Homo sapiens: one gene and its partners. The protein of the gene in region 4 purifies or fractionates together with the protein of the main gene of each other region. This does not show direct contact. Each region holds a gene or a part of one and is shown on either strand. Other genes may lie near its edges. The genes, in order: ASPHD2, TMX4, TMEM59, ADGRG5, GRAMD1A, LSR and ALG9.

Evidence for each region.
Region 1: the proteins of ADGRG5 (region 4) and ASPHD2 purify together in Homo sapiens (affinity purification with mass spectrometry; 2 studies listed by BioGRID and IntAct, with this or other methods). This does not show direct contact.
Region 2: the proteins of ADGRG5 (region 4) and TMX4 purify together in Homo sapiens (co-immunoprecipitation; 3 studies listed by BioGRID and IntAct, with this or other methods). This does not show direct contact.
Region 3: the proteins of ADGRG5 (region 4) and TMEM59 purify together in Homo sapiens (co-immunoprecipitation; 2 studies listed by BioGRID and IntAct, with this or other methods). This does not show direct contact.
Region 5: the proteins of ADGRG5 (region 4) and GRAMD1A purify together in Homo sapiens (co-immunoprecipitation; 3 studies listed by BioGRID and IntAct, with this or other methods). This does not show direct contact.
Region 6: the proteins of ADGRG5 (region 4) and LSR purify together in Homo sapiens (co-immunoprecipitation; 3 studies listed by BioGRID and IntAct, with this or other methods). This does not show direct contact.
Region 7: the proteins of ADGRG5 (region 4) and ALG9 purify together in Homo sapiens (co-immunoprecipitation; 3 studies listed by BioGRID and IntAct, with this or other methods). This does not show direct contact.

Annotation. Positions count from the first base shown.
Region 1 is NC_000022.11:26,438,912-26,442,641, forward strand, and holds part of ASPHD2 (aspartate beta-hydroxylase domain-containing protein 2), read left to right. Parts: intron 1-3,547; coding exon 3,548-3,661; intron 3,662-3,730. UniProt on the Homo sapiens protein: May function as 2-oxoglutarate-dependent dioxygenase.
Region 2 is NC_000020.11:8,009,392-8,013,493, reverse strand, and holds part of TMX4 (thioredoxin-related transmembrane protein 4 precursor), read left to right. Parts: intron 1-3,178; coding exon 3,179-3,294; intron 3,295-4,102.
Region 3 is NC_000001.11:54,050,405-54,054,646, forward strand, and holds the start of TMEM59 (transmembrane protein 59 isoform 2 precursor), read right to left. Parts: upstream 2,801-4,242; 5' UTR 2,785-2,800; coding exon 2,596-2,784; intron 1-2,595. Other genes in the region: TCEANC2 (transcription elongation factor A N-terminal and central domain-containing protein 2), read left to right, coding at 4,019-4,120.
Region 4 is NC_000016.10:57,548,701-57,552,802, forward strand, and holds part of ADGRG5 (adhesion G-protein coupled receptor G5 isoform 1 precursor), read left to right. Parts: intron 1-4,102. UniProt on the Homo sapiens protein: Orphan adhesion G-protein coupled receptor (aGPCR). Ligand binding causes a conformation change that triggers signaling via guanine nucleotide-binding proteins (G proteins) and modulates the activity of downstream effectors, such as adenylate cyclase.
Region 5 is NC_000019.10:35,020,648-35,024,749, forward strand, and holds part of GRAMD1A (protein Aster-A), read left to right. Parts: intron 1-854; coding exon 855-958; intron 959-1,043; coding exon 1,044-1,217; intron 1,218-1,303; coding exon 1,304-1,391; intron 1,392-2,252; coding exon 2,253-2,264; intron 2,265-2,588; coding exon 2,589-2,696; intron 2,697-2,779; coding exon 2,780-2,900; intron 2,901-3,049; coding exon of another isoform or gene 3,050-3,094; exon of another isoform or gene 3,095-3,138; intron 3,139-4,102. UniProt on the Homo sapiens protein: Cholesterol transporter that mediates non-vesicular transport of cholesterol from the plasma membrane (PM) to the endoplasmic reticulum (ER).
Region 6 is NC_000019.10:35,255,189-35,259,290, forward strand, and holds part of LSR (lipolysis-stimulated lipoprotein receptor isoform 2 precursor), read left to right. Parts: intron 1-3,756; coding exon 3,757-3,876; intron 3,877-3,882; exon of another isoform or gene 3,883-4,102. UniProt on the Homo sapiens protein: Probable role in the clearance of triglyceride-rich lipoprotein from blood. Binds chylomicrons, LDL and VLDL in presence of free fatty acids and allows their subsequent uptake in the cells.
Region 7 is NC_000011.10:111,781,339-111,784,827, reverse strand, and holds the end of ALG9 (alpha-1,2-mannosyltransferase ALG9), read left to right. Parts: 3' UTR 1-2,633; downstream 2,634-3,489. UniProt on the Homo sapiens protein: Mannosyltransferase that operates in the biosynthetic pathway of dolichol-linked oligosaccharides, the glycan precursors employed in protein asparagine (N)-glycosylation.

The DNA of each region.
Region 1 (3,730 bases), on a different chromosome or scaffold from region 4:
TTATATTTGCTGGAAGCTGATTAGATTGTGCCTGCCAGATTAAGGGTGGATCTGCCTTCCCCAGCCCACTGACTCAGATGTTAATCTCTTTTGGCAACACCCACATAGACACACCCAGGATTAATACTTTGTATCCCTCAATCTAATCAAGTTGAAACTCAGTATTAACTATCAGACATGTTAACTACAAGAAAATCAGCAATCAGGCCAGGCACAGTGGCTCAAGCCTGTAATCCCAGCACTTTGGGAGGCCGAGTCAGGTGGATCTCTTGAGGCTAGAAGTTCGAGACCAGCCTGGCCAACATGGTGAAGCCCCATCTCTACTAAAAATACAAAAATTAGCTGGGCACGGTAGTGCACACTTGTAATCCCAGCTACTCGGGAGGCTGAGGCAGGAGAATTGCTTGAACCCAAGAGGCAGAGGCTGCAGTGAGCTGAGATCATGGCACTGCACTCCAGCCTGGGCGACAGAGCACGATTCTGTCTCAAAAAAAATAATAATAAATAAAGAAAAATCGAAAACTCCACAATCACTTTAATTCCTCTGTTAATAGTATAACAACTAGCATTTATATCATCATGTCCAGTTTTATAACAGCCTGTTCTTTGGAGTCAGGCTGACTCAGCAACACTAAATGGTAACTTTTTAGCAGGTCATTTAACTTCTTAGTTACCCCATCTGGAAAGTGGGTGAAGTGATACCTGTTAAGTGTGTATTTAGCACAAAGCTGAGTAGGAAGACACAGTAGGTCTTCAGTTATTGGTAACAAGGATAGAAGTCCCATAGCAGCCCTGGAAGGTTCAGTATGCTAATGTCCCCTCTTTACAGGTGAGGGTATGGCTCAGAGAGGCTGAGTGACTTGCCCAAAGTCACACAGCACATAAGAGTCACAACCAGTCGTCTGTCCCCAAGTCCTCCGTCCTTCTGTCTCCTCCATGTGGCCTCTTTATTTGAATTATTACTGTGAACGTACTTCCTGGAACCATTATTTCTGGTTCAAAGAATACATTAAAATACTCTGGCTGCTGGAAGGAAAGCTATTTCATTTTTATGCTAAAGGACATTAAATCAGAGGGGAATGCCAACTGGCCCAGGGTCATTGTGGTCACAGTGAGTCACTGAAGACAGATGAGACCACCACCCATCCCAGCTCCTCTTCCAGGACTCTGCTTCCCCCTGGGTGGGCCTTCCTGAGAGCTGTTGGGCTGACCCAACCCCTTCTGAAATCATTAGATGGCCACGGTGGCCCCTTCTTTTCTGGACATCAAGGTAGTGATGGGGGCCAAGTGTTTCTGCAGACCCTTGTGTTGGAAAGGGCGACTGAGGGTCACACATGGCAGTGTTCCAACCGGACCCCACTGGCCGGTTGAAGCATACGGCTTATTTTTTATTTTTTATTTTTATTTTTGAGACAGAGTCTCACTCTGTTGCCCAGGCTGGAGTGCAGTGGTGCGATTCGCCCAGGCTGGAGTGCGGTGATGCAATCTCGGCTCACTGCAACCTTCGCCTCCTGGGTTCAAGCAATTCTCATGCCTCAGCCTCCCGAGTAGCTGGGATTACAGGCGTCTGCCACCATGCCTGGCTCATTTTGGATAATTAGTAGAGAGAGGGTTTCACCATGTTTGAGACCAGGCTGGTCTCGAACTCTTGGCCTCACGCGATCTGCCCACCCCTCAGCCTCCCAAAGTGCTGGGATTACAGGTGTGAGCCACTGTGCCCAGCCAAGCATACGGCTTCTTACAAAGCTGCCAGTCTATTTCCTCTTGAACCTAAGCCATTACCTTAGAAGTGTCCTCCAGTTTCCCAGAATGAGGGCAGACGAAGAGCACGCCATTCTCCAGCCTCAAAACGGATTAAAAGGCTAGAACCCAAGGAGGAGAACACTGTGTGAGCCTTTGATTTTTTAATCGCAACTGAGATAGTCCTAGAGGGGAGACTACAGTAAACACAGTTACTGGGTAAGGCAAGGTTCTAAACCCAACCTCCCTGGATTTCTGGGGGTCCCCTGGTTAGGCTTCAGAGTGTAGTGCAAATGTCAGTCTGTGACTTTCATAAAAGGAATCCATGACCCAGAATAGATGAAGCCAATGAAGGAATGAATTTTTGCCAAGAGTGCAGTGAAGATCTAGATGGTGGCTTATAAACAACAAAAATGTAGAACTCACAGTTCTGAGGCTGGAAGCCCAAGATCAAGGTGCCAGCAGATTTGGCGTCTGGTGAAGGCCTGCTTCTTGTTCATAAATGACACCTTCTCACTGTGACTTCACATGGTGAAAGGAGGTGGCCAGGAGCAGTGGCTCTTGCCTGTAATCCCAACACTTTGGGAGGCCAAGGTGGGAGGATAGCTTGAGGCCAGGAGTTCGAGACCAGCCCGGTCAACATAGCAAGACCCCATCTTTACAAAAAAAAGTTTAAATTAGCTGGGCATGATGGTGCACACCTATAGTCTCAGCTACTCAAGAGGGTGAGGCTGGAGCATCTCTAGAGCCTAGGAGGTGAAGGCTGCAGTGAACTATGGTGGAGCCACTGCATTTCAGCCTGGGCAACAGAACAAGACCTTGTATCTAAAAAAAAAAAAAAAAAAAAAAGATGTCAGGCCAGGTGCTGTGGCTCATGCCTGTAATCCCAGCACTTTGGGAGGCTGAGGCAAGCAAATCTCTTGAGGTCAGGAGTTCGAGATCAGCTTGGCCAACATGGTGGAACCCCATTTCTATTAAAAATACAAAAATTCGGCCAGGTGCAGTGGCTCACGCCTGTAATCCCAGCACTTTGGGAGGCTGAGGCGGGTGGACACGAGGTCAGGAGTTCAAGACCCGCCTGGCCAAGATGGTGAAACCCCATCTCTACTAAAAATACAAAAATTAGCCTGGCACAGTGGCAGGTGCCTGTAATCCCAGCTACTCGGGAGGCTGAGGCAGGAGAATCGCTTGAACCCAGGTGGCAGAGGTTCCAGTGAGCCAGGATCGCGCCACTGCACTCCAGCCTGGGCGACAGAGTGAGACTCTGTCTCAAACAAAACAAACAAAAAAATTAGCCGGGTGAGGTGGTGGGTGCCTGTAAGCTACTCCAGTGCCTCCCAGCTACTCCGGAGGCTGAGGTAGGAGTATCATTTGAACCTGGGAGGTGGAGGTTGCGGTGAGCCGAGATCACACCACTGCATTCCAGCCTGGGCAACAGAGAGAGACTCCATTTCAAAAAAAAAAAAAAAAAAAGGGAAAAGAAAAAAAGATGCAAAAGGAGGTAAAGAAGCTCCCTTGGGCCTGTTTTATAAGGATGCTGCTCCCATTAGGACCCCACCTTCATGATCTGATCACTTTCCAAAGGCCCCACCTCCTAACACCATCACCTTGGGGTCAGGTTTCAACATGGGAATTTGCAGGGACACAAGCCCACAAGCCTTCAGACCATAGCACGGGCTCCAGAGGTGTGAGGCAGGTCAGGTGCTTTAGAAGTCAAAAACTCTCAGTAAGGCAAATCACCCCCTATCTCCTGGCCTTCCCTGAATCTTGCCTGCCTTCACTCTCCTTTCTCTGGTTTTCCTACAAGGTCTGAAAACTCCAAATGGCTGTGAGCTGGTGGTGGGGGGAGAGCCCCAGTGCTGGGCAGAAGGGCGCTGCCTTCTCTTTGATGACTCTTTCCTGCATGCTGCGTTCCATGAAGGTGAGTGGCTGCCTTTCCCACTTCCTTTTTTTCAATGAATAGACTTTTATTTTTTTAGAGAAGTTTTAG
Region 2 (4,102 bases), on a different chromosome or scaffold from region 4:
AAGTTGGTGTAATTTACCAGAGCTTTTTGGCTATCTGGAATATATTTCAAATATGTTTATGAAGTTTACTAATTTTACATACCACTGTGACCTGCAAACAAGTCAACAAAAGTTCAGTAGAAAAGATAACAATTTACAGTTTAAATGACTATAATGGAGCTAATTGCTCTTGGAGGCTCTTAAGGATTATGTGTAAGAGACAAAGTTATGGCAGGTCATATCTTTTATAGTTCTTAGGAGAAGATTGCCAGTGTGAACTAGTTTGAAATAAATTTAATGAAGATCATGTTCAATTATTTCTGATGTGTTTAATTTATGCATATATACATAAATTATATATATATGTATCTATGTGTACACAGAGTGAGAGAGGAGCATGAAGGTCACATGACTGATCCTTGCATTCATTTTGTCCCTGGAGATATTTTACTTAGTTTCTAAATTCTTATACAAATTACTGTTCTTTAGATACAAAAGAATATTAAAAACTTTAAAAACTGCAGCAACAATGGACCAGTTCCCATGCTAAAGACTCAGAGCTGGCTTATCTCTACCACTGAAAGAACATCTGGGTGCATTCCAACACAAATCAGCTGTGATTAAATCTGTGAAATAATGGCATTAACAATGCCACAGACCAGTGTATAGCAGCTATGTAGAAATGGCATATCTAAAATTACCTCAGTGGCATATCCGAGGATGCATTATAATTGTATATCTGAAGGTCAGTTTCACCAAAAACCAACTTAGTAATAGCCTATCTAGAGATTAAGTCCTGTATTTTTTAAATTATGAAACATAATTACTGATGCAGCAAATGTGCCTGTGATTTATATGCAAAGAGCGTCCTAGGGAAATAAAGAGGATCTGAAGTTCATTATATTATATTATACTTCAAGATAACTTCCTTATTCTTGTTACTTTCTTATAACTTCTTTCTCCCTCTGAATGTTGAAGTTTTATATTCCTTGACGATTTTTATCAAAGAAATACCTCCATCTGTGTTCTTGCTCTGAGTGGTCTTAAGCACATCTCTATACCTGCTTTGTCTGTTTGGCAGTGAGGCTGTAAGGTCAGATGAGCTAATGCATCGTAAAAGTGTCTTGAACCCCAAGCAGTATTACAAATGAAATTTGTATTAATGGTTGCTCCTATTAAATAAATATGTGCCTGCTTCGTATTTCATCTGATCTCTCAGTAACCTAAGGTAGCTACTGTTATTATCCCATTTTACAGTTGAGGAAACTGAGGCATGGAGAGATTATTAACCTGCCCAGAATATCATGATTAATTCCTGGTTGATCTTTCTGATTGTTATAGCAGAACTCTTATCCAACATCATGGAACGCTTGTTGAAATGTACTTGATAATTCAGAATTCCTTTTTTTCCTAAAGTTTGCCAACTGCCTGAGTCTCATCTGTTAACTTGGATATTTAGAAACTACATAGAAAATAACTTATTTTCTCAGATGAAGAATATGATTTTCATTAAAGTTGATACACTTGTTTATTCAGCAAACATTTATTGAACACCTACTGTATATCAAGAATGTACTTTGCCTTGGAAATACAGAGACACGAAGGTTTAAAAAAATCTACATTCAAAGATGTCAGCAGATTATTTTGTTGTTCCTGTCTTCTGGATCTCAGGATTTGGACAGTGAGCTGTAATGGAAAGATTAATGATGTTTTAGCATGATCTTGGAATTAGCTATATAGTAGTCTTTTCTAGAGATGGTGAACAACTGTGCTTGCTAAGTCTTGCTGCTTCTGGGGCCTGTCTGGAGAAAGTAATGAATGCTTTGGCTTTGGGTAGTCCATTCTCTTCTGGGTTCTGCCTAATTTTCAGTACTTTTTGTGAAATAAATGCATTCCTTCCCCTAGTCTTCGCTTTTTAACCCCTGACTCATCTTTTATAATGCGAAAGATCAAAATCTTGCCCAATTTCAGTTTTTGTTTTTTGTTTTGTTATTCAGCAAAGTTGGTTTATATGTGTCATTGCATTGATTTTTTTTTTTAATGATACTTACCAGCATGCTTTTGCACAGTTCAGAATTTTGAAGGGATTTGTAAATGATGACCTGACAGGCAACTTTGAGCCTAAATCTTGTTACAGGATTTGATCAGTTTTGTACTTTTCCCCTTACTTTGTTTCCCTTCCTAAGGCATTTTGTGTGTGTGAGTGTTATATTCTATTGGCAGGCATTCTTTTCTACTTCTCTTTCTCTCCCCTGGCCCCTTTCCTCCCTTAATACAGAAATAATAGGTGCCACATTTTGTAAAAACAATTCAGGAATGGAACAAATGAAAAATAAATTGGAGGGAATTGGCATTTTAAAAATGCTCAGCCTGCTTACCCACAAGTTGGTATATTTCTCTATTTATTCAAGACTTTATTATGAAAAATTTTAAACAGACGCAAAAATAAGAATAATATGATGTTTGCCCCCCATGCTTATCTCTGTTCATTTCTGGATTGTACCGTCCACAAGGAGAGGAGGCACCAAATCTCCTTCACAATTGTAGCCTCAGCTTCTGCCATAATGCTTTCTTAGTATTTATTGAATGAAAAATAACTGTAAAAAGTAGGGTTCTGACTTGAAAGCCAAGGTATTTTTAAATTCTGCTAAATTTAAGAAAGTGTTGGGTAGAGCGGGTTTAGCCTATAGCTTCTACTTTCCTTTTCAGAATGTTCAGAATTACCACAGATCTTGGAAACATTCTTGAGGATGCTCAAACAACAGATTTGGTCTCTGCCCATCAGATCTGTAGCTTTGATGGATTTGAAACTGGTTTGGCTAGTTTAGGGTCACCCTGTGAAAATTGTTCTCCTTTAGTGGGGCACTAAAAAGAGCTCTTACCCTCAAAGATCAAAAGCTATCTGGAGAGAAACATAATTGTATGAATAGCATTGAAATAAAATGTTTATGGATAATAATAATTATTGGAAATATTCTCAAACTTTGGCCAAATTTTTTCCTATAGAATTGACATTCATACATTAAATCCTAGTGGGGACAATGTGCTTCTGTTTTTCTATGTCAAATGACTTTGGAAAAGCCTCCTTTTATAATTTCCCTTTTTTAATAATTTATTTTTTAATTTAAATACTCGATTTCTCTGTTTTGCAGATTTCTTCTGTATATTTATCAATATAATTCTTATTCTTCTCTTATAGTTACGCCCCATGGTGTCCATCCTGCCAGCAGACTGATTCAGAATGGGAGGCTTTTGCAAAGAATGGTGAAATACTTCAGATCAGTGTGGGGAAGGTAGATGTCATTCAAGAACCAGGTACTGTGAATGTTGCACATAAAATGCAAAAGTTTACCGACTTTTTATTTTGAATTTTTTTCAAGCATATAGAAAAGTTGAGAGTCTGGGATATTGATTACCCATGAACTGGCCACCTTTAAGTAGCAGATTACATTTTTTGCATACTTGGATCTGTCTTTACGTGTATGTGTTTGCACATACATATTTGCATATATATTTCTATTTTTTCTATTTTTATTTTGCTGAATCATTTGAAAGTAAGTTATCGACATCATGATAATTTACCCTTCAATTCTTTAGCACGTTAAAGGCTTCTTAATTATTTCCCATGTGTCTTTTTTTTTTTTTTTTTTTTTACAGTTTTTTGACTGAGGATCCAATCATGGTTCATAAATTACATTTGGTTGTTAAGTCTTTTTAGTCTCTTGCAATCAACAATTATCCCTCATTTTTTAAAATGACATTGATATTCTGAAAAGAAAAAGCTACAGTTTTCCTAGGTGTTTCCTTATGGTGACATGGAACTTATAGGAATATTAACTTATACGAGTATTTTCTGCAAACTGAGAGTTTAGGTGCATGATTTAGCTTAGACATTTATGGCAAGAGTACTTCTAAGATGATGCTGTGACTTCATATTACATCTCATTAGAAGGGATATGCTATCACCATTAGTAATGCTAATTTTGAGCACTTGGATATGGTGGTGACACTAAGTATCTCAATTATGAAGAAAGGATCTCACATTGTGATTAGCAAGTAACCTCTGGGATGATTTTTTGGGGTTTTAAGATCCATGATGCTCTTGCCTGAATCAGATATTATA
Region 3 (4,242 bases), on a different chromosome or scaffold from region 4:
GAGCCACCGCGCCCAGCCTAAAACGAGATTTCTATCTCGTTTTTCAAACGCTATGTGAGTTTGAAAATTCATCTAATTTCTTACAATACACAGTGCTTTTTCCTGGAGCACAAAGCACAGAGGAGAGCCAATAGAAATCAGTGACATAATTAAATATGTTTCTTTTTTTTTTTTTTGATGCAGAGTTTCCCTCTTGTCGCCCAGGCTGGAGTGCGGTGGCGCGGGCTCACTGCAACCTCTGTCTCCCGGGTTCAGGCGCTTCTCCTGCCTCAGCCTCCTGAGTAGCTGGGATTACAGGCGCCCGCCACCACGACTGGCTAAATTTTTTTGTATTTTTAGTAGAGACAGGGTTTCACCATGTTGGCCAGGCTGGTCTTGAACTCCTGACCTGAGGTGATCCACCCGCCTCAGCTTCCCAAAGTGCTGGGATTACAGGAGTGAGCCACCGCGCCCGGCATTTTTTTATTTTTATTTTTTTGAGACACGGTCTCATTCTCAGACTGGCGTGCACTGGCGACATTTCGGCTCACTGCGACCTGCGCCTCCCAGGCTCAAGCAAGCCTCCCACCGAGTAGCTGGGACTACAGGTGCTCGTCTCCATGCCTGGCTAGTTTTTTTGTTTTTCTTTTTTCCAGAGACGGGGTCTTGCCATGTTGTCCAGGCTGGTCTCAATCTCCTGAGCTGAGGTGATCCACCCACCTCGGCCTCCCAAAGTGCTGGGATTACAAGCGTGAGCCATCGCACCCGGCCGAATATGTTTAATGCAAGTTTATTAATAGGAGGCAGCATAGTGTAGCCAGTTTTAAGCTGAATTCCTGCTCCACTATTTCTTGGGTATGTGACCTTAGGCAAGTCACTTAACCTTTCAGAGCCTCAATTTCCTTAATTTTAAAACCCTACTTTACAGGGTTGTTGTGAGAATTAGGGATAATGGTATGATAAATCTCCCATCACTCTGGCTAACAGTGGAGTCTATATAAATTTCAAGTCCAGGACCTATAGGGAGCCAGATGATTTGGAGTTCTTTGTGAGAAAAGCTTTAATAAATAAGTAAAAATAGTTTATAGATATAACACCAATTGTTAGAAAATAGTGGACATTATTAAAGTACCTACAACTTCCAGGAAGGTATCCTTTCAAATTATTTGATTATTTTCCCAACATTCTGGTTTATACCACAAAATTGCCGAGAAAATCCCAAAAAAGGAAACAAACCCTAGAACAATAGAAAGTAAGTCTCAACCCAATTCCAGGCCAAATCAATATTAATGAGCTTCTTCATACAATCCTCTTAATGATGAGAAGTTTACAAGAGGTGGAGAAAAATAACGTGGTTAGAAGCAGTATTCATTGATTTAAGTCTGAAGTTAAAACTTCTCACTTCTTTCTCGATTGTTACATAAATCTCTGGAAAAATTTAGTACAGTCCCTTCTCCCACACTTTTTTTTGAAAATTGATAATCTCCATGCAGTTTAAAATCCAGCCGTAACAAAATCTGAGAAGTGCCGGCACTTAGAACTTTTCATTTCAAAGACCTGAAAATACTCGCCAATATGGAACATCCTAAGCTTCACTGGAACTGTCTCCGTAGCCACTCCAGTTTTAGAGAGCAAGGAGGTCCAGCCACAATGGTTAAGCAAATAGCATAGAGGAGATGAAGGAAAAACGAAGAGGAAACCACCAGCAACATCAACAAAAGCTCTCATAAAACAACGTGGGGGAGGGCATATACTCAAATCATACATGGGAAAGGTGTGGTGGGAATCATCAAGCAATTTAGAATGTTGAGTAAACAGAGTTCTTAGGCTGAAAAACCAACGTGAAGAGGGTTAGGTATGTAATTAAAAGAAAGGGGGGAAGCATAGAGAGGAGGGCCATTCCTCTCTGTAAGCTGCGAACCCCCTCCTGTCCACAGTCTCATTTCTTCACCCACTCCACGAATTCCCCGTTTTCTGCACTGAGTGGTCAGTTTCTGGTAGGCAGACACCTAATTGCCTCTTCTCTAACCCAGTCCCTCTTGGCAGCGTCTTGGACACAGTAACTCAACATAGGCAGACAGCATTCCTGAGCGTCTCGCTACTCCCTGAGCTGCCTTCGTGACGCTTTTTATACCACAGTGGAATCGTCTACTTGTCTGACTCCCCGAAGACTGCGCTCCTGGCCCCGAGAGGCGCTTAGTAAACAAGGGTTATCAATCAATCATTTGTGGACTCGCGTATCTGCGCCTCCCTTTCTACAATCCCCCCTTACGCTCCCTTAGGTGAGGACCCCGCATTAATCATCCATATCCTCCCCTATCCTCCTCCGAGTGCTCGACTCCCCTGCAGCCCGGCAAGCTCCCAGAGGAAAGGGATCGCGTCTTTCTCATCTTTGTGTCCCCCAGCCTATCACAGGGTAGTGCAGGACAAACTTCCGGTAATGACAGCAGAAATGGGGTGCAGGCAGGATTAGGGAGGAAAACAGGAGCTACACAGATGGGAGACAGCGATTGAAGGGCCGATTTAACAGCCAGGTTGCCAGAGCCGACATACGTGTGGGGAGCCGAGAAATGGGCTGCAAGGGAAGGGTCGCAGCCCGCTCCGGACGGGCCCTACCTTAGGGTAGGTGTGCAAGGGGTAGGTCAACTGACAGGCCCGGTGGCAAGACGCCGTATCACCCAAGACCGAGTCAAATGCTTCAGCCGAAGCGGTCCCCGAACCTCCGGCCAAGGCCATGGTCAGCAGCAGCAGCGGCGGGAGCCCCAGTTGGGTCCTCACCCAGAGGCTCCCCTTCGGCGCCGCCATCTTGTTCCCCTCTGTCACAGCAGCTCAGCTTGTTGCTGTTTTCTCGGAAGGGTTTCCTCCTCCTCCTGGGGCCAGCCCCCTTCTCCGCCCCACCGACCGTTGCTTCCGCCTCCGCTGTCACTTCAGCTCCGCCCTCACCCGCCAGAAACTGCCGCCTCCTGCCTCACCTCTGGGACTACGAACTTCTTCTCCTAGGCTGGCGTGAGGAGGGGAATTCAACCATCGCAAGCGTTAGCGCGAAGCGGGGCCTCCTGACTTCTTCCCTTCGCGGGGCAGGCTGGGGCATGTAGTTCTCCGTAGGCGGGAGGCGCACGGTGCTGTCGGGAAAGTTGGTCTCGGAAAACTACAGCCGCCCTCAGCGCGCCTTCCGCCCGCATTTCTTCGCAGTGCATTCTGGGGAATGTGGTTCGCTGTGGCCCAGAGGCGCGAGGGCCGGCGGAGTTTCTTCAGAGGAACTACCGCCCTGGGAGGAAGCGTCTGTTTAGTTTCAACACAGACGACTGGGCTTGGGAGCCTACGAGGTTGCAGTCTGGAGGGCGCCAACAGCAGCTACCAGGGCTGCTTTTCCTGGTGGGTCTCACGTCAGACCGTTGTTGGGTGCCCCTACCCGGGCTCCTGAGTGCTGGGAACGAGGAGGATGGGGTTTCTCCTTGTTCGGGGATCCAGAGATTACAGCCGTGGGTAGGGTCCTCTGACCACCGAGCAGTTTGTTCTAGGGGATGCTGCGTATTGTGAGACCCTCTGCTGAGTTCTGGAGGTGGTTGTCGGTTGCTGATTACCAGGGCAACCCTTGGGATTATGGCTGTGGTGAGGTGGTTGTTAAGAGGGCGTCACTGAGCCTAATGTAATCCTAACCCTTTCACAGCCCAATCTTATTTGGAAGAGGGCTTAGGTGCACGCTCTAGCGGGGATTCCAATATTGGGCCAATTCCCCCAATGTTGGAATCCTCGCTAGAGCGTGCACTTCTGGAAGCTAGGAACCTCCTAACTCAGGACGTAGACTGATGATTGATTACAGTTTCAATTCTTCGGAAGATCTTTCTTTTAAAGAGAAAATCTTACTTCCTGTCAATTCCACTCGAGGCCCCATAATTCATGAATTCTTCCAGAGAACTCAATTGTGTTACTTTGGGGAAAAAATATCATGGCAGTCTTTAGTGGGGTTTTAGAATCTGCCCTCTTTCTTGACCAGAACACGCTGCAAGCACGTCAAGGTAGTCGGAGTCCCCTAACAATGGATAAATTCGTCATTCGAACGCCTAGAATCCAGAATAGCCCTCAGAAGAAAGATTCTGGAGGAAAGGTTTACAAGCAGGCCACGATTGAATCTCTGAAGGTGAGAGGGGATCTGGGGCTAGAGGAAATGTGCAAAGGACTGATAGCAAGGTGGTGCTAGAGGTTCTGTTGTGGAAAGACCTATGAATTATTTCTTGTTATGCCTCCTCCTCAAAGTGTACC
Region 4 (4,102 bases):
GCAACATTTTGAGATTGGCTTTTTTTTTTTTTTTTTTGGCTCATGATAATTCCTTTAAGATCCATCCAAGTTGTGTGTGTCAGTAGCTTTTTTTTAGAAATTCATTTTTTTAACTGCTGAGAATTGTATTTCAGAGTGTAAAGGTATCACCATTTAACCATTTTCACCCACTTTGAGGCTATCATGAATAAAGCTGCTATGACTCTTCATATACAGGTTTTTGTGTGAACACGAGGTTTCATTTCTCTGGGATAAAAGCCCAAGAGTGCAATTATTGGGTCATATGATAGGTACATGTTTAGTTTTATAAGAAACTGTCGAACTGTTTTCCAGAATGGCATTGGAGTGTAATTTATTTATTCCTCTATTGATAGACATTCACATAGCTTTCAACTTTTCTTTATTAACAATACTATTCTAAATATTCTTGTATGTGTATAATCCTGGCTTGCCCTATTCTTTCCATAGGATAAATTCATAAGAATGAGTTTCCTGGCTTAAAGGATATTCAGAACGTAAAGTTCGAATGTGTTGCTAAGCCGTCCCCTTGCAGATGAGGCTCAGATCTTAGACAGAGAGTGCAGGAATGTGCCTGTCCCTACAGACTCACTGGGTGCTATCATATTTCAGATCTTTGCAGATCCAATGGTGGAAAAATGAGAACTCATGTTCTTAACTACTTTCCTCTGCCACTACCATCAAACACATATTTTGAGTTTTGTGGCTCTCCCTCTTGAAGCCTTGCAAGTTTTTGTTGACTTCCTTTCTCTAAGAGGAGGATCATCAGTTCTCTTGCCCTCCCTCCCCTATTTCCTCTTCTTCATCCTCTTAATATGTTTTTTGATTGGATTTCTAAAGTCTTGTCTATAGAGGTATACATACAATAAAATTCACCCTTTTGGAGAGGAGTTTTTGCATTTTGACAGATGTGTACAGTCATGTATACATGTATATTACAATCAAAATATAGAACATTGCTGTCCCCTGAAAAGTTGTCTCAGGCCCTTTTGTAGTTAATATCTTTTCCCTACTCCCTGGCAACTACTGATTTGTTCTCTGATCCAATAGTTTTGACTTTTCTAGATTCCACTTCCATGTTACATTCCCTCCAGAAATGAATGAGGCTTCCAGCTGTTCTATATCCTCATAATACTTTGTATTACCATTTTAATCCTAGTCATTCTAGAAGGTGTGTAGTGATATCTGATTGTGGTTTTTATATGCATTTCTCTAATGACTAATGATATTGAGTGTTTCTCATGTGCTTATTTGCATCTATACATTTTTTTTTTTAACATGTAGTTCCAGCTCTGTCACCCAGGCTGAAATGCAGTGGCATGATCTCAGCTCACTGCAGCCTCCTCCTCCTGGGTTGAAGCAATTCTCCTGCCTTAGACTCTTGAGCAGCTAGGATTACAGGCACATGCTACCACACCTGGCTAATTGTTGTATTTTTAGTAGAGACAGGGGTTTCACCATGTTGGCCAGGCTGGTTTCAAACTCCTGACCTTGGGTGACCCACCCGCCTCGGCCTCCCAAAGTGCTGGGATTACAGGCATGAGCCACCGCGCCCGGCCCATCTATATACATCTTCATTGGTATAGTGATTGTTCAAATCTTTTCCTATATTTATTGGGTTGTTTGTCCTCTTATTAGTTGTGTAAGAGTTCTTTATGTAGTCCAGATACAATTTTTTAAAAACATCAGATATGTGTTTGTAAATATTTTCTCCCAGTCTGTGGCTTATCTTCTCGTTTTGCTAACCATGACTTTCAAAAAGCAGAAGTTTTAATTTTGATGAAATTCAACTTATCAGTTTTTTGTTGTTGTTGTTGCCATGGATCACGTTTTTGGTGTTGTTTCTAAGAAATCTTTGCATAACCTAAGTCAGAAGGATTTTCTTTTTTGTTTTTTCCAAGGAGTTTTACAGGCATATCTTGGAGATATTGTGGGTTTGGTTTTAGACCACCACAGTAAAGCAAATATGGTAATAAAGTGAGTCACACAAATTGTTTGGTTTCCCAGTGCATATAAAAGTGATGCTTACGGCCAGGCACGGTGGCTCATGTCTGTAATCCCAGCACTTTGGGAGGCCGAGGCGGGCGGATCATGAGGTCAGGAGATCGAGACCATCCTGGCCAACATGGTGAAACCCCATCTCTACTAAAAATACAAAAATTAGCCGAGCATGGTGGTGTGTGCCTGTAATCCCATCTACTTGGGAGGCTGAGGCAGGAGAATCACTTGAACCTGTGAGGTGGAGGCGGAGGTTGCAGTGAGCTGAGATCGCACCACTGCATTCCAGCCTGGGCAACAGAGCGAGACTGTCTCACACATGAAAAAAGTTATGTTTACATTATACTGTAGTCTATTTAGTGTACAAAAGCATTATGTCTAAAAATGTACATACCTTAGTTAAAGGACACTTTATTGCTAAAAAGTACTAGCAATCTATCTGAGCCTTCAACAAATCACACGCTTTTTTGCTGGTGGAAAGTCTTGCCTTGATGCTGATCAAGGTGGTGGTGGTTGAAGGTTGGGGTGGCTGGCTGTTTCTTAAGACAGCAGTGAAGTTTGCCACATCAGTTGACTCTTCCTTTCATAAGATGTTTTTCTGTAGCATGTGATGCTGTTTGATAGTATTTTACTCACGGTAGAGCTTCATTCAAAATTGGAGTCCGTCCTCTCAAACCCTGCAGGGGCTTTATCCACTACATTTATTTAATATTCTAAATCTTTTGTTGTCATTTCCACAGTGTTCACCATATCTTCACCAGGAGTAGATTCCATTTCAAAAAACCACTCATTGTTCATCTATGAGAAGCGACTCCCCATCCATTCAAGTTTGATCATGAGACTGCAGCAATTCAGTCACATCTTCAGGATCCACTACTAATTCTAGTTCTCTTGCTATTCTAATCACATCTGTAATTACTTTCCCCACTGAAGTTTTGAACCCCTCAAAGTCGTCCATGAAGCATGGAATCAACCTCTTCCAAACTCCTGTTAATGTTGATATTTTGACTTCTTCCCATGAATCACAATCACATGTTCTTGCAGCATCTAGAAGGGTGAATCTTTTCCAGATTTTCAATTTACTTTGCCCTGATCCATCAGAGAAATCACTATCTATGACAGCTATAGCCTTATGAAATTTGTTTCCTAAATAATAAGACTTGAAGGTCGAAATGACTCCTTGATCCATGGGCTGCAGAATGGATGTTGTGTTAGCAGCACGAGAACAACATTGATCTCCTTGTGCATCTCCATCAGAGCTCTTGGGTGACTAGGTACATTGTCGATGAGCAGAAATATTTTGAAATAAATCTTTTTTTTTTTTTGAGTAGTAGGTCTTAACAGTGGGTTTAAAATATTCAGGAAACTATGCTATAAATAGATTGCTATCATCCAGGCTTTGTTATTCCATTTGTAGAGCACAGGCAGAATAGATTTAGCATAACTCTTAAGAGACCTAGGATTTTCAGGATGTTAAATGAGTATTGGCTTCCATTGAAAGTCACCAGCTGCATTACCCGCTAACAAGGGAGTTAGCCTGTCCTTTGAAGCTTTGAAACCAGGCATTGATTTCTTCTCTCTGGCTATGAAACTCTTAGATGGCATCCGCTTCCAATATGAGGCTCTTTCATCTACACTGAAATTCTGTTGTTTAATGTGGCCACCCTCATGCATGATGTTAGCTAGTTCTTGTGGATAACTTGCTTCTCCATCAGCACTTGCTGTTTCACTTTGTACTGCTATGTCATGGAGATGGCTTTTTTCCTGAAACCTCATGAACCAACCTCTGCTAGCTTCCACGTTTTTTCAGCTTCCTCACCCACCTTGGCCTTCATAGAATTGAAGAGTTAGGGCCTTGCTCTGAACTAGGCTTTGGCTTAAGGGAACGTTGGCCGGGGGCTGGTTTGATCTTCTATCCAGATCACTGAAGCTTTCTCCATATCAGCAATAAGGTTGTTTTGCTTCATGTGTTCACTGGAGTAGCACTTTAAATTTTCTTTAAGAGCTTTTCCTTTGCATTCATAACTTTGTGAACTGTTCGGTGCAGGATGCCTCGCTTTTGGCTTATCTGGGTTTTCACGTGTCT
Region 5 (4,102 bases), on a different chromosome or scaffold from region 4:
GACCCTGTCTCAAAAAAAAAAAAAAAAAAAAAAAGGTGAACCAGATGTGGCTCATGGTGAAGACTTGACTTTACCTGGAGTGAGGTGCAACCAGGCCAGGGCTCTGAGCCAGGAGGGCGCTGACCTGACTCAGGTGGTCCCAGGCTCCTTCTGGCTCCCTCTGTTCTGGTGGGAACAGACTGCAAAGACAGGTACAGGAGCAGGGAGGCCAGGGAGGAGGCTGCTGGGACATCCAGGCTGGAGGGGACGGAGGCTGAATCAGGGTGAGGAAATGGAGGGGGAAGAGTTTAGATTCTGGAGAGATTTTGCAGGTTTAGCTGACAGGATTTGCTGAGAGATTGGATGTGGCGGTGAGGGAAAGAGAGCTCAAGGAATATCCCGAGGCATTTGGCCCAAATCACTACAACTTCGGAGCTGCCCTTGACCCAGATGGGGGCGGCAGGGAGGAATGGGTTTGGGGAAAGACCAGGAGGTCAGTTTGGGACTCAGCTGTCTATGTTGAGCTGAGCCCATGTGGAGCTGGGGTGCAGCAGCCGAATGGAAGAGGTTCAGGGGCATGGTCTGGTTAAGACGTCAGTCTGTGAGTAGACAGGGCTCAGGCCGCCGGGAGCGTTGCCCAGGTAGTGGGCATGGGTGGAGAAGGACCGAGGGCTGAGTTGGCTGGCATTTGGGCTGGGCGGGTGGTGTATGGGGTATCCAGGGAAGCCATGGGGGGTAGGGAACCCATCTGTTTTGTCTGTGAGTGACAAGGGGCCCTCTCTGAATTAGGGGAAGGAAAAAACTCAGCTTGTGGGACGGGGCAGCCAGGGCTGGAGTCAGACCCTTACCTCCTTCCCCTGATCTCCCAACCCCAGAGTGTCTTCTGAGATCCGCTACCGAAAGCAGCCGTGGAGCCTGGTGAAGTCGCTCATTGAGAAGAACTCGTGGAGCGGCATTGAAGACTATTTCCACCATCTGGGTAGGGACAGAAGGCCGGCTGGGGCGTGGGTTGGGGGATGGCCTGGCCAGGTATGGACATCCAGAGCCCCCTCTCTTTTACGCAGAGCGAGAGCTCGCCAAGGCTGAGAAGCTGTCTCTGGAGGAAGGCGGGAAGGATGCCCGGGGCTTGCTATCCGGCCTGCGGCGGCGGAAGCGGCCCCTGAGCTGGCGGGCTCACGGGGACGGGCCCCAGCACCCAGATCCTGACCCCTGTGCCCGGGCCGGCATTCACACCTCGGGTACGTTCCGTTGGGGCCGGGTTGGGGTAGGCGGAGGATCGGGGGTCCTGGACTGGGCCATCTGACTCCAAGCTGCTCTCCTGCAGGCTCCCTCAGCTCCCGCTTCTCCGAACCATCTGTGGACCAGGGCCCCGGGGCAGGCATCCCCAGTGCCCTGGTTCTCATCAGCATTGTGTGAGTAAGAGACAGGAGCAGTGGCCACACAGGCCTGAACCTGCCTCCTGGCTGTGTGACCTTGGGCAAGTGTGTGGCCTCTTTGAGCTCTCTGCTTAAGTGGGAGCGTGGGTTTGCTCACAGCAAGGATTAGACAAGGCAATGTTTGGGATGTGCCGGTTTGTCATGGAGAAGCCTTCCCTGCTAGAACAGCAGAGCCGGGGGGGGCTATGGGAGATCAGAGGGGCCTGACCTCACCCAAGGATCAAGGGGGGCTTTCTGGAGGAGCAGGCACACAAAGATTCTGGAATTAGGTGCACAGGGAGAGGTGTGCCTAACAAGTGAGGTCATTTATGGACATTATGTTCTCTGTGCCCACTCCTAAGCTGGGCGATGCTGAGGACACCGCAGTGACCTTGAGGAAAAGATAGACCTCACACCAGACCAGAGTGATCCGGGCTGGGATGGGGGAGGTATGGGCAGAGGGGTTGGGGCTGGGAGTGGGGAAGCCCTGGGAGGCCAGCGGCGGCTTCCTCCCAGGCCAGAGGGGGCAGTCAGGATGGGCGTCCTGAGAGAGTGGAGACCGCGTAGGCTAAGGGCTTGGGCAGGGAGAACCCACACTCCTGCCCAGAAGCCTGCAGGAGTTGGCGGGCAGGACGCTGGGAGGAAACAGAAGCAGGATCCCGGGGTTGAGCAGACCCTGCGAGGTGAGGGTCAGGCCAGCTACATGCTCAGCCTCTGAGCCTCAGCTCTCAGCTCTCATCCAGTGAGGGGGCGTGGTGCTCTCAGCCAAGAGCTGCCCCGGGTGAGGAGGGCTGGGGGTGTCGGGGGCAGGCCAGGCGGCGCTCATCTCTCTGTCTCCCCTCACTGCTGCTGCTGCAGGATCTGTGTGAGGTAGGGTCCCGAGTCCTCCCCCTGCCCTCCCCTCCCTGCACCCCACCCCTGCTGCAGCCTCTTCTCCCCACCCCATGCCCCCCAGCTCCCCCAGGGAGGTGGCCTGGCATGGCAGTCAAGGGTATGGGCATCAGACAGACCTGGGTTTGAACACTGACTTCCCTGCTATGGACTGTGCAACCCTAGGCATGTCTCTCATCCTCTCTGAGCCTAATTCTCCTCCTCTGCAATGGGGGATAGAGGTGTCCCTACAAGATGTAGTTGTTTGGGGGTGTTCAGAGCATCTAGACCCCAGGAATCCTGACCTCTGACCCCTGTCCCCAGCCTTATCATCCTCATCGCCCTCAACGTCCTGCTCTTCTACCGCCTCTGGTCCCTGGAAAGGACAGCCCACACCTTTGAGTCCTGGCACAGCCTGGCCCTGGCCAAGGGGTGAGTGGGTAGCCTGGGGAAATGGGGGGGCTTGGGCACATCGGGGGAGGCCAAGGCCCTGCTCAGGCCTGGCATCCCCACAGCAAGTTCCCCCAGACGGCCACAGAGTGGGCCGAGATCCTGGCGCTGCAGAAGCAATTCCACAGCGTGGAGGTGCACAAGTGGAGGCAGATCCTGCGGGCCTCCGTGGAGCTCCTGGATGAGGTAGGAGGCGCCGCTCGGGCAGGGCTCGGGGCTGCGGGGCTGCAGGGTCCTGTGTTGAAACCCCACCGTGCGGCAGGCACTTCCCCTCTCCGGATCTCAGTGTCCTCCTCTGTAAAATGAGGAAGCCGCTCAGAGTCCCCACCCCACAGCATTGCAGGGGAAAGCATGGAAGCATGGATGGAAGACAGAACTGATTGGCTCACGTCCTGGAGAAAAGTCCAGAGGCGTCTCACATTAGGCACGGCCGGGTTTGGTCACTCAATGGCAGTAAGAGTCAGTCTCTCGTGCCCACTCTGCCCTGTGCCCATCTCCAGGGTTGGCTTCATTGGAGGCCACCCTTTTCCCCCCACAGGGGACCACGGAGCTTACTCTCATTGGCTGCTGGGGTCCCAGGCCTACCCCTGACACATCACAACAGCCAGGGCAGGCCACGTGTGGTCCCTCTACCCGCTACCCCACTCTGGGGTAACTAAGGGGTCACATGGTCTGAAGGGGAGAGACTCTCCAAAGGACCTGAGGTCTCATCTCCAAAACGGAGTGGACCCAGACACCCAGTGTAGTTCAGGGACAATGTCTACTCAGACAACCAGGTTCCAATTCCGGTGTGTGACCTCGTGCAAGTGATTTTGCCATGGTGGCCGTGGACTCCTCTGTGCACAGGATAATGACTGATGCTACCTCAAAGACTGTTGTGAGGATGAGACAAGTTGACATTGGGAGTGGTGCCAGGCCTGCAGGAAACACTGGATGTGGGCTGGCTGTCCTGAGTTTGAGCCTAGTGCCAGGGACAAAGCAGATGCCCAATAAATGTGATGTCATCACACGACAATTCCCTCAGGCCCCAGTAGACTCAGGCCAGCAGTTGCGGTGGGTCAGAGCAAGTGTCAGGCCAGCAGTTGCGGTGGGTCAGAGCAAGTGTCAGGCCAGCAGTTGTGGTGGGTCAGAGCAAGTGTTAGGCACTCGGGGAAGGTGTCGAGGGGGAAAGCGGATGGGAAACAGAGTCTGGCATTGCCTGCATTTCCAAGGCCATCAGAGCTGAAGTTGTGGGTGACGGTGAAAATCTTGTCTCATTGGACCCTTCCATATCAGAAGGCTCATCTTTAGGGGTCTCATTGCCCCCCGAAATCAAGCTTGGGAGAGGCTCACACTGGAAAGGGCGGGGCAGGATGGGGTGGGGAGGAGATGAAGGCTGAGGCCCCATC
Region 6 (4,102 bases), on a different chromosome or scaffold from region 4:
AGCGGGGCATGATGGCACACCCTGCTACTCTGGAGATGGGAAGATTGCTTGAGCCTAGGAGTTCGAAGCTGCAGTGACCCATGATCGCACCACTGCACTCCAGCCTGGGCGACCAAGCTAGGCCCTCTCAAAAAAGATACAGGTGGAAAAATGATGGACGAAGAGGGCATTGTGGCAAACCTGGGGATTTAGGAGAACCTAGTTTGGAATTCTATGAGGATTCAATGAAAGAATGTGTGTAGAGGGGCCCAGCACATAGTAAGAGCTCAATAAACGGTGGGGGCTAGGGGCGGTGGCTCATGCCTGTAATCCCAGCACTTTGGGAGGCTGAGGCAGGTGGATCACTTGAGCCCTGGAGTTCAAGATCAACCTGGACAACAAAGCAAGATCCCATCTCAAAATTAAAAAACAACACCAACAACAAAAAAACAGTGGCTTAGATGCCTGATCATTAGGGTAAGTCGTGTCCTCAACCCCTTCACATCTGCTCTGAAGGTCACCATATCCGGAAGCCTTCCCTGGCCTCCTTGTTTAAAATGGCACAGCCCCCACTCCACGCCTGGCACTCTCTGCTGTCCCTGATTCGTTTTCTCCATACAGCTTATCTTTGTCTGATATGTGACATAGTTAACATTTTATATTTGTCTTTCTTTCCTAGTTAGAATCTGAACTCTAGAAGGGCAAGGGCAAGGATTTATAACTCAAAGGTTCCGGGCTTAGGCCTCTTTTATATTCTTGATTTTGAGGTTAATTAAGAGCTCAGGCCTAGCGAGGTGGCTCATGCCTGGAATCCCAGCACTTTGGGAGGCCCAGGCGGGCAGATCACTTGAGGTCAGGAGTTCCAGACCTGCCTGGCCAACACAGTGAAAAACCTGTCTCTACTAAAAATACAAAAATTAGCCAGTTATGTTGGCAGGCGCCTATAATCCCAGCTACTCAAGAGGCTGAGGCAGGAGAATCGCTTGAACCCAGGAGGCAGAGGCTGCAGTGAGCCAAGATCGTGCCACTGCACTCCAGCCTGGGCAACAGAGCGAGACTCCATCTCAAAAAAAAAAAAAAAATTAAGAGCTCAAAGAGTTTGTTTTCATAGGCAGCAGAATGAGAAAAGTTTACAAAATAGTTTAAATGACAATAAAGTCATTATAGATTAACATAAATAAAATACCTTTTATGAAAAAAATAATCATTTTCTGAAATCAGACAAAACATTGTGAATGAGAAGGTGGCATGGTTTTATTTTTTTGCAAGTCTCCGAAGCCTGGCTGGATAGAAGAGCCTGGCTTCTCAGAGCTGCTTCAGTCTGTTGTGATATCTATTGTATGTCACGTAGCCTCTGGAAAACTCCACAGTTAGTATTGTTGGGAAAATAACTTTGACCTCAGGATCTCCTGAAAACGTCTTGGGGAACCCCAGGGTCTAGAGGCTGCAGTTTGAGAACTGTTGCTGTGGTATCCCAGGTGTCTCAAATACTGCCTAGAACATAGGTGGTACTCAGTAATTATTGTTGAAGGATGAATGAATGAATGAATGAATGAATGAATGAAAGAAAGAAAGAAATGTGTCTTTGAATCCAGCCATGTGCCCAGAATGATGAGACAGATGACAAAAGCTAAGGGACTTTAGCATGAGGAGAGGGGGTTCGTTTCCTTTTTTTTCTTTTTTTTTTGAGATGGAGTCTCACTCTACTGCCCAGGCTAGAGTGCAGTGGTGCAATCTCAGCTCACTGCAATCTCTGCCTCCTGAGTTCAAGCAATTCTCCTGCCTCAGCCTCCAGGGTAGCTGGGACTACAGGTGCGTGCCACCATGCCTAGCTAATTTTTTACATTTTTGGTAGAGATGGGGTTTTACCATGTTGGCCGGGCTGGTCTGGAACTCCTGACCTCAAGTGATCCACCTGCCTCAGCCTCCCAAAGTGTTAGGATTACAGGTGTGAGCCACCATGTCCGGCCAAGAGGGTGTTCATTTCTGCTCCTTGCCAGGTATTGTGTCAGGCACTGGGGACCCAGCAGTGGCTGAGACAGACAGGGCTCTGCCTCACGGAGCCCACATTTTCACCAGGCAAAGGATGGTCGGCCCCTAAGCTGGGAGATAAGACTTCAGCAGTTGGGTGGGGGAGCCGTGGGAGAAGCCCAGCCCACAGGGGGACAGTGCAAATCTAGAACCAAGGCGATGGCAGGGGTGAGGCTGGCACGGTAGCTAGAGACCACGTCGTGCCAAGGGCCTTGGGGACCATGGGACTATGGGACCTTAGGGAAGGCGTCTGGAATGCTGTAGCCAGACACTGTTGCAAGGAGGATTTTTCTGTAGACATGAGGCCTTCCTTATGAAGAAAGCAAGGGTTCTTTCATTCCTGGGGGTGCCAGGTGCTGTGGACTGCAGCACGCGTGGTTGCTGCCGTCACAGAGCTGTCATGCAGGAGGGCAGCGCGTCCTTGGGAAGGTGGCAGGCAGGTCAGGCTAGGAGGAAAGAGGCCGGGAAGCTGAGGGCATTTCCTGCCCGAGATGCCCAATGTAGCCTACTTCTGTCCCCAGTGGCTTAAGGCAGAGTTGCCTGGTAGGTGCCCTGGTCCCACCCTGGTGAAAGGCTGAAGGTATTTAATTAGTGCCTGAGAAGCAGAGAGGAAACAGGATGTGCCAAAACACTTTGATGGATGGTAGAGTTAACAGGCTCCTTGCCTGCAGCTGCTTCAGACAAGAGCGTCCCCAAGCCCTGGGCCTGACCTGGAATGTGGGGATGGAAGGGGAGGGGGAGGAACCAAGGCACTGGGAGGGTAAGTCTCTCTCTCCCACATAGACACACCCACTCCTTATGGGTGCCTGGGCATCTCCTGGTACCTAGAATCTGGCCTGTTTATCTCCACACCCATCCCTGGGGTCTACACTAGGCCCTGTGGGTGGCAGTTCACATCAGGGGAGTTCTGACTTTGGCTCTGAGAGGTGGTTCAGAGATGGCTGTAAGTTGAGAAGCACAGACTGCTGGGTGTGGTGGTTCACGCCTGTAATCCCAGCACTTTGGGAGGCTGAGGTGGGGGTGGATCACCTGAGGTCTGGAGTTCAAAACCAACTTGGTCAACATGGCGAAACTCCATCTCTACTAAAAATGCAAAAATTAGCCAGGTGTGGTGGCAGGTGCCTATAATCCCAGCTACATGGGAGGCTGAGGCAGGAGAATTGCTTGAATCTGGGAGGCGAAGATTGTAGTGAGCCGAGATTAGTTCGCACCATTGCATGCCAGCCTGGGCAACAAGAGTGAAACTCCGATTCAAACAAAAAAAAAAAAAAGCTGGGCATGGTGGAGTGCCTGTAGTCCTAACTACTCAGGTGGGAGGATTGCTTGAGTCCAGGAGGTTGAAGTTGCAGTGGGCTATAATTACACCACTGCACTCCAGCCAGGGCCACAGAGTGAGACCCTGTCTCTAAAGAAAGAAAAAAAAAAACAACCTCAGGCTCCGAGGGCACCATTACTGCTCTATACTGAAGAGCTGTGCAGCTTTTCCAGACCCGAAATGTCATCCACAAAACAGAAGTGATAATGGTCCTGCCTCACAGACTTCTTGCAGTAGTCCAGGTGTTTAGAACGGGGTGTAAAAGGCCGTGTGCCCTTGGTAGGAATCTTTGCATATGCATTTGATCATCTGCAGCCTGCCCAGCCCACTGCTTGCCCCCTCCTGGGTGTGCTGGGAAGGGGTCTTTGGCCCTCCAGGGGTTAGGTGCCCCAGCCTCCAAGGTGCCCTCACGCCTTTTCATCCCGACTCAGATGCTGACCTGACCTTTGACCAGACGGCGTGGGGGGACAGTGGTGTGTATTACTGCTCCGTGGTCTCAGCCCAGGACCTCCAGGGGAACAATGAGGCCTACGCAGAGCTCATCGTCCTTGGTGAGTGGGCCTGGGAAGGGGGAGGCATGGCCCTTCCTTTTGTCCGCTTCTGTTCTGTCTGCCCTCCCCTGTGTCCGCCCTCTGCCCTCCAGCTTACCCTCTGGGCTCTGTCGCCTGCTCTGCTCTCCCCCAGGCTCTGCCAGTCACTTAGGCTCCCCTGTGCCCTGCACCCCAGGCAGGGACCACTGGCCCACAGTGCCTCCAATCACCCAAGCCAAACTAAGAG
Region 7 (3,489 bases), on a different chromosome or scaffold from region 4:
GGGTCACATTATAGGTGCCTTATTTCCCTAAGGGTAACTGATCTGAATATCTGCAAATAGGATGAATCTATTTTTCAGAAGTTCCATCTTTCATTTTTCTTTTTTTTTTTGAGACAGAGTCTCATTCTGTCGCCCATGCTGGAGTGCAGTGGCGCGATCTCGGCTCGCTGCAACCTCTGCCTCCCAGGTTGAAGCAATTCTCATGCCTCAGCCACCCGAGTAGCTGGGATTACAGGCATGCGCCATCATGCCCAGCTAATTTATGTATTTTTAGTAGAGTTGGAGTTTCACCATGTTGGCCAGGCTGGTCTTGGACTCCTGACCTCAGGTCATCCACCCGCCTCAGCCTCCCAAAGTGCTGGTATTACAGGCGTGAGCCACCGCACCCAGCCCCATCTTTCATTTTCAAAGAGAAGGGCATTCTAATAGGAACTGGTGCCAAGAGAGAAGAAAAGAAGTGATAACAGAAGAAATGGCTAGTTACAATATTAAAAAGCTCCTCTTTGAGATCTCCTCTGCAGGAATATCAGAGACGGAGTTGAAGCGCTGGAGAGGTAATAGGTCTAGACAGTACAGAACAATAACTGGGGAGTGTGTGAGGATAGACTGGGCTCCCCCTTGCTTGAAAGATCTCTGGCATTTAATTCTCAATTCTTGATTACTATTTTCCAGTGTAAAACTAGCACATATGATCTGACTACAGGACAGAGAATTTTAAGTGAAACATTTGCCTTACTTGCAGTAATAATGTGCTGTTCTTCACAGTAGCTAAGGCCCTCTATGTTTCCCAGAGGTAAATAAGAATCCAGGAATGGAGGTCCATCTGTGATGAATGGCTTTTTTCTAATCAAAGTAGTATAATGCTGTTTTATCTGTTTTGTCATCTTGTTTTTTTTTTTTTTTAAAAAAACAAAACCTTAATTATAATATAGCGCAAAGAAAGGCCAGGACTGATGCAGGGATTCCTTGGAAATATCAGTTCCTATCACTTTTAAAACCTGATTTTGGATCTCTCTGTTCTATGTATGTCTTTAGTGAGAGCACAATACATGGCAGAACGCTGTGCCAAATGTTATAGGTAAGGAATATAGAAATGAATGTTTTTTGTTGTGAAGGTGTTTTCATGTGATATTTTATAAACACATTTTAAAAAATCTCCATCACTTTTTAGTATAGGAAGGATAGCTTTGCCTGGGAAAAACAGTTTCAACACACCTGCTCAGAGTAGCAGTTCTCCCTCAAAAAAGCAGTGTTCAGCCTGCACTGACTGTTCTGCTTGCCAAAAGGAGGAAGCATGCAAGATACTTATTTCTCCATAGATTGTGGAGTATAGAGGGATGTGGGACTACAGATTATTATTTTTTTTCCCCGAGACAGAGTCTTGCTCTGTCGCCCAGGTTGGAACACAATGGCACGACCTCAGCTCACTGCAACCTCTGTCTCCCGGGTTCAAGCAATTCTCCTGCTTCAGCCTCCTGAGTAGCTGGGATTACAGGCACACACCACCACCGCACTCAGCTAATTTTTGTATTTTTAGTAGAGGTGGGGTTTTACCATGTTGGCCAGGCTGGTCTTAAACTCCTGACCTTGTAATCATCCCGCCTCGGCCTCCTAAAGTGCTAGGATTACAGGCATGAGCCACCGCACCCGGCCCAGATAATTTTTAATAGCCTTTGATCATGGGGTGAGTGAGGGAGTAGGTATACTTGGCAAATGCATGGTTCTCTGATTTCTAGCTCTAAAGCAGCCTTATCTGAATCCCCAAATCTTGTGATGCTGAGTACCATTACTGAACCAGTCTGCACGGTAGGCATCTGCTACCAAAATTTACCTCCTACCTGGTAGGTGTCATCTGATAAGAAAGAAGACAGGTTATTTTAATTTTTTGAGATAATCACAGAAAATTGCAGCCCATACTCTTTATTACCGAATTCAAGTTTGGAAATAGACCCTTTGTTTTAAATCATGATGGGTCTTTATCCCAATCATTTATCTGGGTCATTTTTCCAACTTTGGAGTTCTAGGAAAGAACCTTGAAAACCTGATATGATTCTGCAGCATGAGGTCTACGGTGACCATTTGGGCAAAGCTCCAGTGGCAATCATTTATTGTGTTTTGCATTTCCTGGGATTTATTGAAATAAGAATTCACTGTGATTATGTAGTCTTCTGGCTAGTATCAGGCAGCTCTGCTTTTAATTTGGTTAATTTTATTTTCTCTGAAGAGGGAGAAGAGGTACAATTTAATCTTGGCCTCCACAAGCATATTAAAGCTCACGTGTTAATCAGTGCATTCTTATGCTCCTACATTAAATGCCTTGGGTAAATGGATAAATGGACATGTGCCCAGCTTTAATTTTTTTTGCAACAGAAAGATCAGACTTCCGTATGGCATCGTTGGATTTCAGAGGCTTTCTGGTGTATCTGTAAATCTGAATGTTGCCTTCTGCCAGTCTGTATAACCAGGTGATTCATGCTGCAAATGAAATCAGGAAGCAGTAAAGTGTTAAAGCAAGAGTATTGTCCAATTCACTTGTCTTCCTGATCCTTGTACTTTATTTCACGTGTCGGTGTTTACATTACATACTTATATTTCCTGTGAAAGAAAGAGTTAAATAAATTGTAGCAGTTTGATTTTCTTTTTCTTAATGTGACATTTTCTCTTTTGCTTTTAAATCTTTCTTGGAAATTGGAAACTGAAGGAGCTCAAGTCCTTTCTCCCTGACTCCAGCCCTATTCCTCAGTGTGGAGACCTGCCTTCTACAGGCCAAATATCCCAGAATGTTTATTCTGAAAACTTTAGAAGAAGACTTTGGGAAACCCAGTGAGGATTAGTTTTATTTTAACTATGTTAAAACCACGCACAGTAGGAATTAATATATGGGCCAGGCGTAGTGGCTCACGCCTGTTATCACAGCACTGTGGGATGCCGAGACGGGTGGATCATTTGAGGTCAGGAGTTCGAGACCAGCCTGACCAACATGGTGAAACCACGTCTCTACTAAAAATACAAAATAGCTGGGCGTAGTGGCGCATGCCTGTAATCCCAGCTACTTGGGAGGCTGAGGCAGGAGAATCACTTGAACCTGGGAGGTGGAGGTTGCAGTGAGCCAAGATTGCACCATTCCACTCCAGCCTGGGCAACAAGAGTGAGACTCCATCTAAAAAAAAAATAATAAAAAATGAATAAAAATTAAAAGGAATTACTCAATACATGAACATTGTACCTAAAAGAGATGAAGTCCTGGATCCATCTTAAGTTTTTGGAATGAGAATCACTGGACTGTGAGAGTCTAATTTTCTTAGAAATCCTAATCCAGTTATATCTAACACTTAGGTAATTTCCCCCTTTGTTGGGGTTGTCAGAAGGAATAAATTTTTTTTAATTTTTATATTTTAGAAATGGCATGTGTTACATTGTTCAGGCTGGCCTTAAACAACAAACAGTCCTCCTGCCTCAACCTCTTAAGTAGCTAGGACTACAGGCATG